Linked DNA regions of Homo sapiens: region 2 is linked to region 1. A link means that fine-mapping ties the variant in region 1 to the expression of a gene that starts in the linked region. Tissue or cell type: whole blood. Region 1 holds a variant in brackets; the other region holds the start of a gene. All regions are shown on one strand. Distances are between the middles of the regions.

Region 1 (5,146 bases):
TTTTGAAACAGAGTCCCACTCTGTCGCCCAGGCTGGAGTGCAGTGGCATAATCTCGGCTCACTACAACCTCCGCCTCCTGGGTTCCAGCGAGTCTCCTGCCTCAGCCTCCTGAGTAGCTGGGGTATTACAGGTGCGCGCCACCACACCTGGCTAATTTTTCATTTTTAGTAGAGACGGGATTTCACCATGTTGGTCAGGCTGGTCTCGAACTCCTGACCTCGTGATCTGCCCACCACGGCCTCCCAAAGTGCTGGGATTACAGGCGTGAGCCACTGCGCCCGGCCCCCTGTATCCTTTTTTTTTTTTTTTTTTTTGAGACGAGTCTCACTCTGTCGCCAGGCTTGAGTGCAGTGGTGCGATCTCGGCTCACTGCAACCTCCGCCTCCCAGGTTCAAGCAATTCTCCTGTCTCAGCCTCCCGAGTAGCTGGGATTACAGGCGAACGCTACCATGCCCGGCTAATTTTTGTATTTTTAGTAGAGATGGGGTTTCACCATATTGGTCAGGCTGGTCTCGAACTCCTGACCTCAGGCAATCCACCCGCCTCGGCCTTCCAAATTGTTGGGATTACAGGCGTGAGCCACCGCGCAGCCCTTCATTTTTTAAAATAAGAAATAAATGAAAAAAGATGATCAAGACAAACTCTTCATACAGTGCCCGCTGTACAAAGTAAGAAATTAATAATGGTCACGTTTGTGATTATTATTTAAACACCAAGCAGATATTAAATATTAGGGCTCAGAGAGGGCATGCGACCCGCCTGAATTCACTCAGCTGCAGAGCTGGAAAGAGAACTCAGGCCTTTTTCCCCACGCTGGAAGGGGTAGCTGGGGCGGAGAGGTGGGGGGAGCGGTGAAGAAACCCCAAGCGGCCCAAGCTGTGGGTCTGGGTTGGGAGACTCGCAGGTGTGGGGCGGGGAGGTAAGGTGACCCTTGCTCAGCGACCGCGCCCGCAAGAAACGCATTCCCAGGCCTCCCGCCCGGGGTCTGCAGGTGACGGGCTGGGGGGAGCACGGGAACTAGCTAGACCAGTTTGTCGTCTCCATGGCGACCGCCCGCGCGGCGCCAGCCTGACAGTCCGTCCGGGTTTTATGAATGGGTGACGTCACAGGCCTGGCGTCTAACGGTCTGAGCCGCTGGTTCAGACGCTGACACAGACCGGCCCGGGAAGGGAGGGGGGAGACTGTAGCTCCGCAGCTGCCGCGCCGTGGGAGGGAGACCCTGCTCTGAGGTCTTTGAGAAGAAAATTTAAAAAGCAGCCAAAAATGGGAAAAAACATTAAAAAATCACGAACTGTTGCAGGTTCAGGAAATTTTTGCAAGGAGCTGCAAATTCAAGGTGGAATCGAATGCAGCCTCACTCCACTGCGCTCTATCTAGTTCACTTCCCAGCCACCCAGCCCCAAACTTACTAGACTTTCCCGAATTAATTGCTCCCACCCGGGAGGGATCTGGGTAGGCCCTCCGGGTCTCAGGAACACGAACAGCAACATTATTTAGGAATTGAGAAAGCCCAGGGGAGCAGATGTAAAGGAGCGCCCGCTTTAAATTTCGGTCCTGATATTTGTAGATCAGGGTCCGAGAAGCATCTTCCAAGAGGGTCCGGAAACCCAGGCTCTCTGGGCTATCCAGAGCCAGCCGCTTCTCCGTTCGGGCCTCAATTTCTCTCATCTGTGAAATGGAGCTGGAGAAGTGAGAAAGTGAATATGGGAAAAACTGATTCCTGAGGTCTTTTCATTATAAGGCAATGCCTGCTTAGCTTCCTTGCCTCCTTCCAGAGGAGCCCAGTGCGGCCCTCGCCTCTACCCGCTGCCCTGCCCGGTGCCCTGCCACCGACCCACCCTTGCTGTTCTGAAACCCGGGTCGTCTTTCCACACTGCGAGCAGGCACTAGACGAGCAGGAGGCTGGACCTAGGAGCGCGGGTCACGCCCCCATGCCGCCCATTGGCTGCTTTTGAACGTTCTGAGCCCGCCCCTCCGGGGGCCGTGGCGTGTTTATAAAAGACAAGCTGTGGCTCCGCACTCTCATTCCACGTTCTTAA[C/G]TGTTCCATTTTCCGTATCTGCTTCGGGCTTCCACCTCATTTTTTTCGCTTTGCCCATTCTGTTTCAGCCAGTCGCCAAGAATCATGAAAGTCGCCAGTGGCAGCACCGCCACCGCCGCCGCGGGCCCCAGCTGCGCGCTGAAGGCCGGCAAGACAGCGAGCGGTGCGGGCGAGGTGGTGCGCTGTCTGTCTGAGCAGAGCGTGGCCATCTCGCGCTGCGCCGGGGGCGCCGGGGCGCGCCTGCCTGCCCTGCTGGACGAGCAGCAGGTAAACGTGCTGCTCTACGACATGAACGGCTGTTACTCACGCCTCAAGGAGCTGGTGCCCACCCTGCCCCAGAACCGCAAGGTGAGCAAGGTGGAGATTCTCCAGCACGTCATCGACTACATCAGGGACCTTCAGTTGGAGCTGAACTCGGAATCCGAAGTTGGAACCCCCGGGGGCCGAGGGCTGCCGGTCCGGGCTCCGCTCAGCACCCTCAACGGCGAGATCAGCGCCCTGACGGCCGAGGTGAGATCCAGATCCGACCACTAGATCATCCTTATACCGACGGGGAAACGGAGGCCAGAGAGGGCGTGGGCGCTTGCACCACTTCCGTCCCATCCTTGCGGGTACCTGGCTATGCGGGGGTGCCTAAGGAGCCTGGAAAAAGCGCTCCCCCGTCGTGCTTCCTGGGGAAGGGGGCGTTCGCTGCGCTCGGAGCGGCGTCCCTTCCAACCCGCCGGTCTCATTTCTTCTCGTTTTCACAGGCGGCATGCGTTCCTGCGGACGATCGCATCTTGTGTCGCTGAAGCGCCTCCCCCAGGGACCGGCGGACCCCAGCCATCCAGGGGGCAAGAGGAATTACGTGCTCTGTGGGTCTCCCCCAACGCGCCTCGCCGGATCTGAGGGAGAACAAGACCGATCGGCGGCCACTGCGCCCTTAACTGCATCCAGCCTGGGGCTGAGGCTGAGGCACTGGCGAGGAGAGGGCGCTCCTCTCTGCACACCTACTAGTCACCAGAGACTTTAGGGGGTGGGATTCCACTCGTGTGTTTCTATTTTTTGAAAAGCAGACATTTTAAAAAATGGTCACGTTTGGTGCTTCTCAGATTTCTGAGGAAATTGCTTTGTATTGTATATTACAATGATCACCGACTGAAAATATTGTTTTACAATAGTTCTGTGGGGCTGTTTTTTTGTTATTAAACAAATAATTTAGATGGTGGTAAAGTTGTAGTGACTTCTTGGGTTGAGGGGAGGGGCCTGGGCTGGGGGTTGACCCCTGACCCTCTTCACAGCTGGTTCTGGGAGGAGAATTGGAGGGCTACATCTGGATTGTTGCTCTTACCGGCCTGAATGAGTGTTTCCGGTGTCTTTAAAGTCTATTCTTCCCCCACCATCCCTGCCCATTTCCCTGCTCCCCAGTGTTATAAAACTAAATACTCCAGACCTCTGGGGTTTCTCACAGTGATCATTGGGCCATCTAGATCACCTGGGGAGGTTGTTAAAATGCAGATGAACCTGCCAGGGCCCCCTCTGTATTGGGAGTATTGAGCAAGCCATTTAAGTTGGAGAACCTGGCCGCTGGACCACCCACTTCCTTGCCAAGATGTGGATAAAGTGAGACCCAGTGGAAAGGGACTTGCTTAGGGCCATAGCTTGTGAGAGGCAGTGATTCTATCACCCCATTCCCCAGTTGGAGGTGCCTCCCCCAACAGCCTACCTCTGGGTTCCAGCAGGCAGCCCTGGGGCTCCTGGCTCATCCAAGTGGGTGAGCAAGTTGGCAGGGCCAGGCTGGGCACAGCTGCCGAGACACCTGCTCTGGGTCCAGACTCGGCCTCCTCACTCTGGCCTGGCTCTGTCGGCAGTTCAAACAAATCTCCCCCACCAACCCCGGGGCTCCTGCGTAGGATCTGAGGAGTGGACGAGTCTCATTACCCAGCTCCTGAGCAGGAAAAATATGTCATTGGCAAGGGTCTAAGAATCTTCCTGGACATGTATGTGGATTTCTACTCAGGGGAGCATGTATGAGTGTCTACGCCTGTGTATGTAACAGGAGTAAGCTGATCTTCCCCCACTACTCCCACAGTGGGGATGGGCCAACTGTTCACATATAGGCTTGGGGGAGGGGGTGTAAGTAGGAGTATGCTTGGGGGTGTGTGCAGAAGGGCAAATGAGAGCACATGTGTTCTGCAGATAAGTGTGGAACCTCCAGCTGTTTGGGCTTGTGTGTTCTGCCTAAATGCATTGTAGGCATCTCTGCATGGGTCTGGCATGATGGATGGGTTTGTGTGTCTGGGGGCCACAGAACCACACTGTGGGTTTCTGTGTGTATAACTGTTCTATAGATTGGTTGGCATTCCTGGGCCTCTGCGGGTCTGGAGTGAAGGTGGGGACAGCTGTGTTTGGGCAAACCCTTCCTCAAAAGTTCACGTGGCAACTCCCTGGGCTATCGTTAGGTCCTGGGGGCACCAACCCTCAAGGATTGCTGCCAGGTAAACCCCCCTGTATTACATATGGAGAAACTGAGTCCCAGGAATGACAAAGAACTTGTCCCAGACAGGTAAGGGCTATTAATATATTTTGTCAATAAACAATAGAATAAAATCAATAGCCCTTAGCACCAGAAGCCTGGCTCTGCTCAACTGAACCCTTTACAAAAACGATTTCATGGATCCCTGTGGGGCTAAAGGCAAGACTGTGATCCCAGTTTTACAGCAGAAGGAACAAGCTCAGAGAGGGGATGAACAAAAAATCAAATGAAAGATTATGATTTGAGCACTAACATTAAGCCAGGTACACCCCCTCCACAGTTTATGGATTTTATCGAAGAACCCAGTACTTGCAGGCGAATTATGTTCTTTGCTACCTCCTCCCCACCGGCTGCTGTATTACAGTACTAACCTCACGGAATGTAGTACAGAATAAATGAAATAAAGTAAGTGTGTAAAACGTTTAGCACAGTGCTTGGCACAGAATGTTTCATAGTTATAAATTATTATTGTCGCCTGTGAGTCCTTGGAGTGTCCTCGGAGGCACACGTGTGCACGCACGCACTCTCACGTGTGGGCCCCCGCCTGCAAGCCCACCCACGGGGTCTGAGCGGGTTCCCCCTCGCGTACTC
Region 2 (5,146 bases), 91 kb before region 1:
ATAAAATAAAATAGGCACTCTTGCGGGAGGTGGCAGCTCATGCCTATAATTGCAGAACTTTGGGAGGCCGAAGTGGGCAGATTGCTTGAGCCCAGGAGTTTGAGACCAGCCTGGGCAACATGCCGAAACCCCATCTCTACTAAAAACACAAAAAGTTAGCCGGGCGTGGTGGCACACACCTGTGGTCCCAGCTACTGGGGAGGCTGAGGTGGGAGAATCACCCAAGCCCAGAAGGTAGAGGCTGCAGTGAGCTGTGATCATGCCACTGCACTCCAGCCTGGGTGACAGAGTGAGACCCTGTCTCAAAATAATAATAATAATAATAATAATAATAGGCCCTCCTTGAAGTTTTTTGTTTGCACAGTCACACAGTGATGCTTAGATGTTCCAGTATCTAATATAGCCACAGTAGGCTGCAAGCAGTGGCTCATACCTGTAATCCCAACACTTTAGGAGGCTGAGGCAGGAGGATCACTTGAACCTAGGAGTTTGAGACCAGCCTGGCCAACATGGCAAAACCCCATGTCTAAGAAAATATATATTTTTAACTTTTTTAACAATATCAAAAATAAGAATCACATAAATAAACAGATTCTTCAAATTCTGAAAAGAGCCACAAAGCTTTATAAATTGTACAGGGGCATGAACTCGTAAGGTATTATAATTGCCTGGCACATAGTAGGCTCTCAATACATTTGCAAACTCCACACACACCTTACTTTCTTTTGCTTTATTTTTCTCTATTTATCTGCATTAACATGCTATGTAACACATAACTATACATTAACGTTTTACAAATTACAAATTTTTCTTGTTTTTTTTTTTTTTTTTTTTGAGACAGAGTCTCACTCTGTCGCCCAGGCTGGAGTGCAGTGGGCTCACTGCAACCTCCGCCTCCCAGGTTCAAGCCAGTCTCCTGCCTCAGCCTCCCAAGTAGCTGGGATTGTAGGCGCCCGCCACCACGCCCGGCTAATTTTTTATATTTTTAGTACAGACGGGGTTTCACCGTGTTAGCCAGGATGGTCTCGATCTCCTGACCTCGCAATCTGCCCACCTCGGCCTCCCAAAGTGCTGGGATTACAGGCGTGAGCCACCGCGCCTGGCCTTTTTTTTTTTTTTTTTTTTTTTTTTTTTCAGACGGAGTTTCGCTCTTGTTGCCCAGGCTGGAGTGCAATGGCTCAGTCTTGGCTCACTGCAACCTCCGCCTCCCGGGTTCAGGCGATTCTCCTGCCTCAGCCTCCCGAGTAGCTGGGATTACAGGTGCGTGCCACCACGCCCGGCTAATTGTTTGTATTTTTAGTGCAGACGGGGTTTCACCATATTGGTCAGGCTGGTCTCGAACTCGTGACGTCAGGTGATCCACCCGCCTCGGCCTCCTAGAGTGCTGGGATTACAGGCGTGAGCCACTGCGCCCAGCCCATTTTACAGACTTTTATTTTGTTCAGTTTCTTTATTGTCTTCCCAACGTCCCCCCACACACACTGCACTAAAATGCAAACTTCACGAAGGCAAGGAGGAACTTTTGCCTGTATTGTTCACCTCAGTGTCCCCAGAGCCTAGGTCAGTTGTTGGCATATTGAGGGACATTCAATAAATATTTAAGGAGTGAATAAACAATTGGATACCCAATAAATGCATGTATGAATAAACACATTCTTAGTTATTCGGAATATGAGGATTTGCGGAGAGTGGACAGCAGGGGATTGAGGAGACCGGCTGGGACTGGGAAATGGGCATTCGGGTCGCATGCCCACCGCAGTGGCCCAGAGCCCCTGTCCGGACCGCTAACAAGTTGCTTAGCAACCCGCCGCCCGGCCCTCGGCCACCGCTAGAGGGCGAGCGGGCGGGGAGACGTGCACGCGCGCGCGCGTGCGTGCAAGCGTGTGTGCGCGCGTGCGCGGCGCGGGCTTGGGAGGGAGCACGTCACTTCCTGTTGCCTTAGGGGAACGTGGCTTTCCCTGCAGAGCCGGTGTCTCCGCCTGCGTCCCTGCTGCAGCAACCGGAGCTGGAGTCGGATCCCGAACGCACCCTCGCCATGGACTCGGCCCTCAGCGATCCGCATAACGGCAGTGCCGAGGCAGGCGGCCCCACCAACAGCACTACGCGGCCGCCTTCCACGCCCGAGGGCATCGCGCTGGCCTACGGCAGCCTCCTGCTCATGGCGCTGCTGCCCATCTTCTTCGGCGCCCTGCGCTCCGTACGCTGCGCCCGCGGCAAGGTAGGGTCAGCGGGAAAACCGGGCACTTTCCACCCCCATACCGAACACGGCCGACATGGACCCTTCCTAGGCGGGACAGACACCTCTCCCCGGACACTGACTCTTCCCAGCCCTGATCACCACCGTTCCCTCTGTCTCGGGCCCACATTCCGGGGCTGGCATTTCCTACCCCGGGATCTGGGCACCGACCCCCGACCAGGGTATGATACCTTCCCCAATAGGAACTTGCTTCTGCTCCCGACCCGGACCCTGACACTTCCCTCCCTGTGCATCATGCCGCGGCTGGGAACGCTGTCAGCCCGTCCCCCACTGCGACTCGGGCACTGATTGTTCTGAGCCTGTTGGGCCCAGGCAGATCAGCCCCATCATGTATACCTGATGGATACTGGTCCTCACAACTTACTGAATGGTACAATTTCGTGTCATTCCCTGTTAGGAACCCTGCCTCAGCCCACCGCAGGGCCCTTTCTACCATCCAGACCCATCCCTAGACTCTGACTCCTGTCTCACTGGAATCTATGGCACCTTATGTGCTCACCTAGATCCCCCACACCTGGCCCTTGCCCCTGCCTCAAAAACAATGATCTCTTAGAGCCCAGTTTTTCACATCACTTTCTGGAACCATCCCAGTCAGCTGGCTCCTCAGAAGCTGGCATCTTGGTGCCTCTACTTTCCAACTAGGCATGGACGTCTTATTTTCCTGGTTTCCTCTCTTAACTACCATCCAACCTTGGACATGGCCTAGTCAAAACCTAGACCTTGTTCCTAACCTGTAACCCTTTTCCCACCCAGCCTTTGACCCTATCTCAAAGTAGCCCTTCTCCCCATACCCCCAAGACAATCCCCCCACCAAACTGGGCCTGTCTGCTGGGCCACTGTTGGCCCCTCTTGTGAGACTGGGCCAGACTCCATCCCTGGCCTTCCTCAACATCTGTCCTATTGGATAACTAGGAGGACTCCAGCACATTTCACCTTCTGCTTCTCCCTCCCCCTTCCCTGCCCCACTTCTTCCCTATATTAAGCCCTTTCTAGCCCGTTGTACCAATGACTTTTCACTTCCTGGCACCCTCTCCCTTCCTCCACAACCTCTTAATCTGCACCTTCCCGATGCTCCTCCCCCACCCAGACCTGAGGATGGACCTAAGTGGAAGTCTTGCCCAAAGAGGGCAGGCCCACAAAGCAGCTGCCACTTTTGAAACTGCTGAAGCTGAGGTTCTCAAAACACTACCCAACTTGAGCAGTAGCTGAGGCCTGCCATCTTCCTTCCCCAGGAGCAGAGAACTCACTACTGGCTCTGTATGCGATCAGATGCAAAGGAAAGTAGTTAGGCGGGGCTTAGGCTGAGAGACTCAAACATGACTCCATTTTCCTTTTTATTTGGCTTTTTCTAAGCTGAGTTCAGGTGATATTAAGCCTCTCTACTATGCCTGTCAGGTAGACACTTAGTGTAGAGAGCAGTTCTGAGATAACCCAGGACAGAGGAGGCGAAGGACAGCTGGCATAAGGCTAGGCAGCTTGATCTGAGCTGCTCTCCAAACTGAGTAATTCTCCCTGGCACCTTCTGTACATGGATCACTAATCTCTGCAGAAAACACCTTCCAGGCAACAGTATTTCCTGAACTTCCACCACTGTCAGGGGTAAGGGAGGATTGCTGCAAAGATGAGTAGGTCAGAGCCCTGTCACCAAGGAATTCGGGAGCGTAGGTGAAAGAATAATAACTAGATTGTGATTATACTACAAGCAATGCTACAAGGTTTAGGGAGAAAGATTGAGCACATCTGGGACAATGCAGGGAGGCTTTGTGCTAGAGGTAGGCCTGAGCCTTGACGTAGAGGTAGAATTTCAGCCAGGAGAAGGCATTCTAAGCAAAAGAAACCAGGTAAGCAGAGAGAGGTACGGAGGCAGGAGGCTACGAGGCAGTTCAGGAAATAGTGGAAGGTTTGGTGTGGCTGGAACAGAGGGTATGGATAGGAGAAAGCCTTAGCCTCTGAATACCTCTCCCAAGCATCTCCTGCAGGGCAGCAGGGTGTGGAGGACTGTATGAATTTACAAACAGGACCTGACCATTAAGAGCCTGCCACCACCAATGACCCAGATGCGGTAAAGCTTGCAAAACCTTGACGCCCTTTGATGCTCACAGCAACTGAGGTGGCAGGCAGAGCCAGTTTCATTATCCTCATTGTACAGGAAAAGAAACTGAGAGTCAAAGAAATGACTTCTGAAGATCACTCTGCCATTTAGGGGCAGAATCAGGTATGCCTAGTCCTCATCCAGGGCTCTCTCCTAACACAGGTACCTTTAAAGACAAGCAGCATTGACCTAGGGAAAGGACAGGGCAAATGACTCCCCTTCTACCCTGAGTCGTTTCCCTGGTCATGTGAAAAGGAGAGAGAAGAGTTAGTGTGGGGACCCAGTTTTGATTTCCCACCAGTGTTGGACCCCAAAACCAGTTGGGAGAGAGGGAATGTGAGGACAGAATCCCCAAGGGTCAAGGTGTCCATAACAGGCAGGGAAAATTGTGAAATCATGGAGAGAAAGAAGGTAGAGCCTCCAGGAGTATGTTGTGAAGAAGTAGCCTTGGGAGGAGCAGTCTCAGAGCAGCACCCATCACTGTCAGAGTCCTATATCCCAGACAGAAGCGAATATGACCCAGGCAGTAGCTGCACATTAAACATTGGTTTAAAGGGCCCTCAGCGAACAGGACTGGGTGCCTGCTGTGGGCTAGGCTCTGGGCTGGGTACCAGGAGTTCCGGGACAAAGAAGGCCAAGCCCTGCCCTCACTGAGCCCAGTCACCAAGGAGAAACAGACATGTGACTAGTCAAGTAAATAGAGCTCTGATAGGCCTCCTGGAGGGGGCAGCAGTTGTCTCTGCATGGATTGGGAGAGTCCAACAGGCAGAGCAGGAGAAGGTGGGGCAGGGGACCAC

What was found. PIP is the estimated chance that this variant, and not a neighbour inherited with it, causes the effect.
Region 2: it holds the start of HM13, and the variant in region 1 is fine-mapped to the expression of HM13 in whole blood (TOPMed, PIP 0.93).

What each region holds. Positions count from the first base shown.
Region 1 is chr20:31,603,264-31,608,409 of GRCh38, forward strand. ID1 (inhibitor of DNA binding 1) reads left to right here and starts at 2,026. Exons shown (of 2, transcript NM_002165.4): 1 at 2,026-2,550; 2 at 2,790-3,247. The coding sequence starts at 2,125. The coding sequence ends at 2,831. MIR3193 (microRNA 3193) reads left to right here and starts at 3,923; the gene lies at 3,923-3,977. LOC105372588 (a long non-coding RNA gene) reads right to left here and starts at 1,932. Exons shown (of 2, transcript XR_936669.2): 1 at 1,840-1,932; 2 at 1,428-1,682. RefSeq lists enhancers at 650-1,488, 1,224-1,403, 1,793-2,463, 2,464-3,133, 3,180-3,758, a silencer at 3,783-4,077 and a cis regulatory region at 5,139-5,146. The variant C/G (reference allele first, on the strand shown) is at 2,041.
Region 2 is chr20:31,512,517-31,517,662 of GRCh38, forward strand. It overlaps HM13 (histocompatibility minor 13), which reads left to right and starts at 1,926. Exons shown (of 13, transcript NM_178581.3): 1 at 1,926-2,218. The coding sequence starts at 2,036. RefSeq lists a silencer at 2,523-2,592.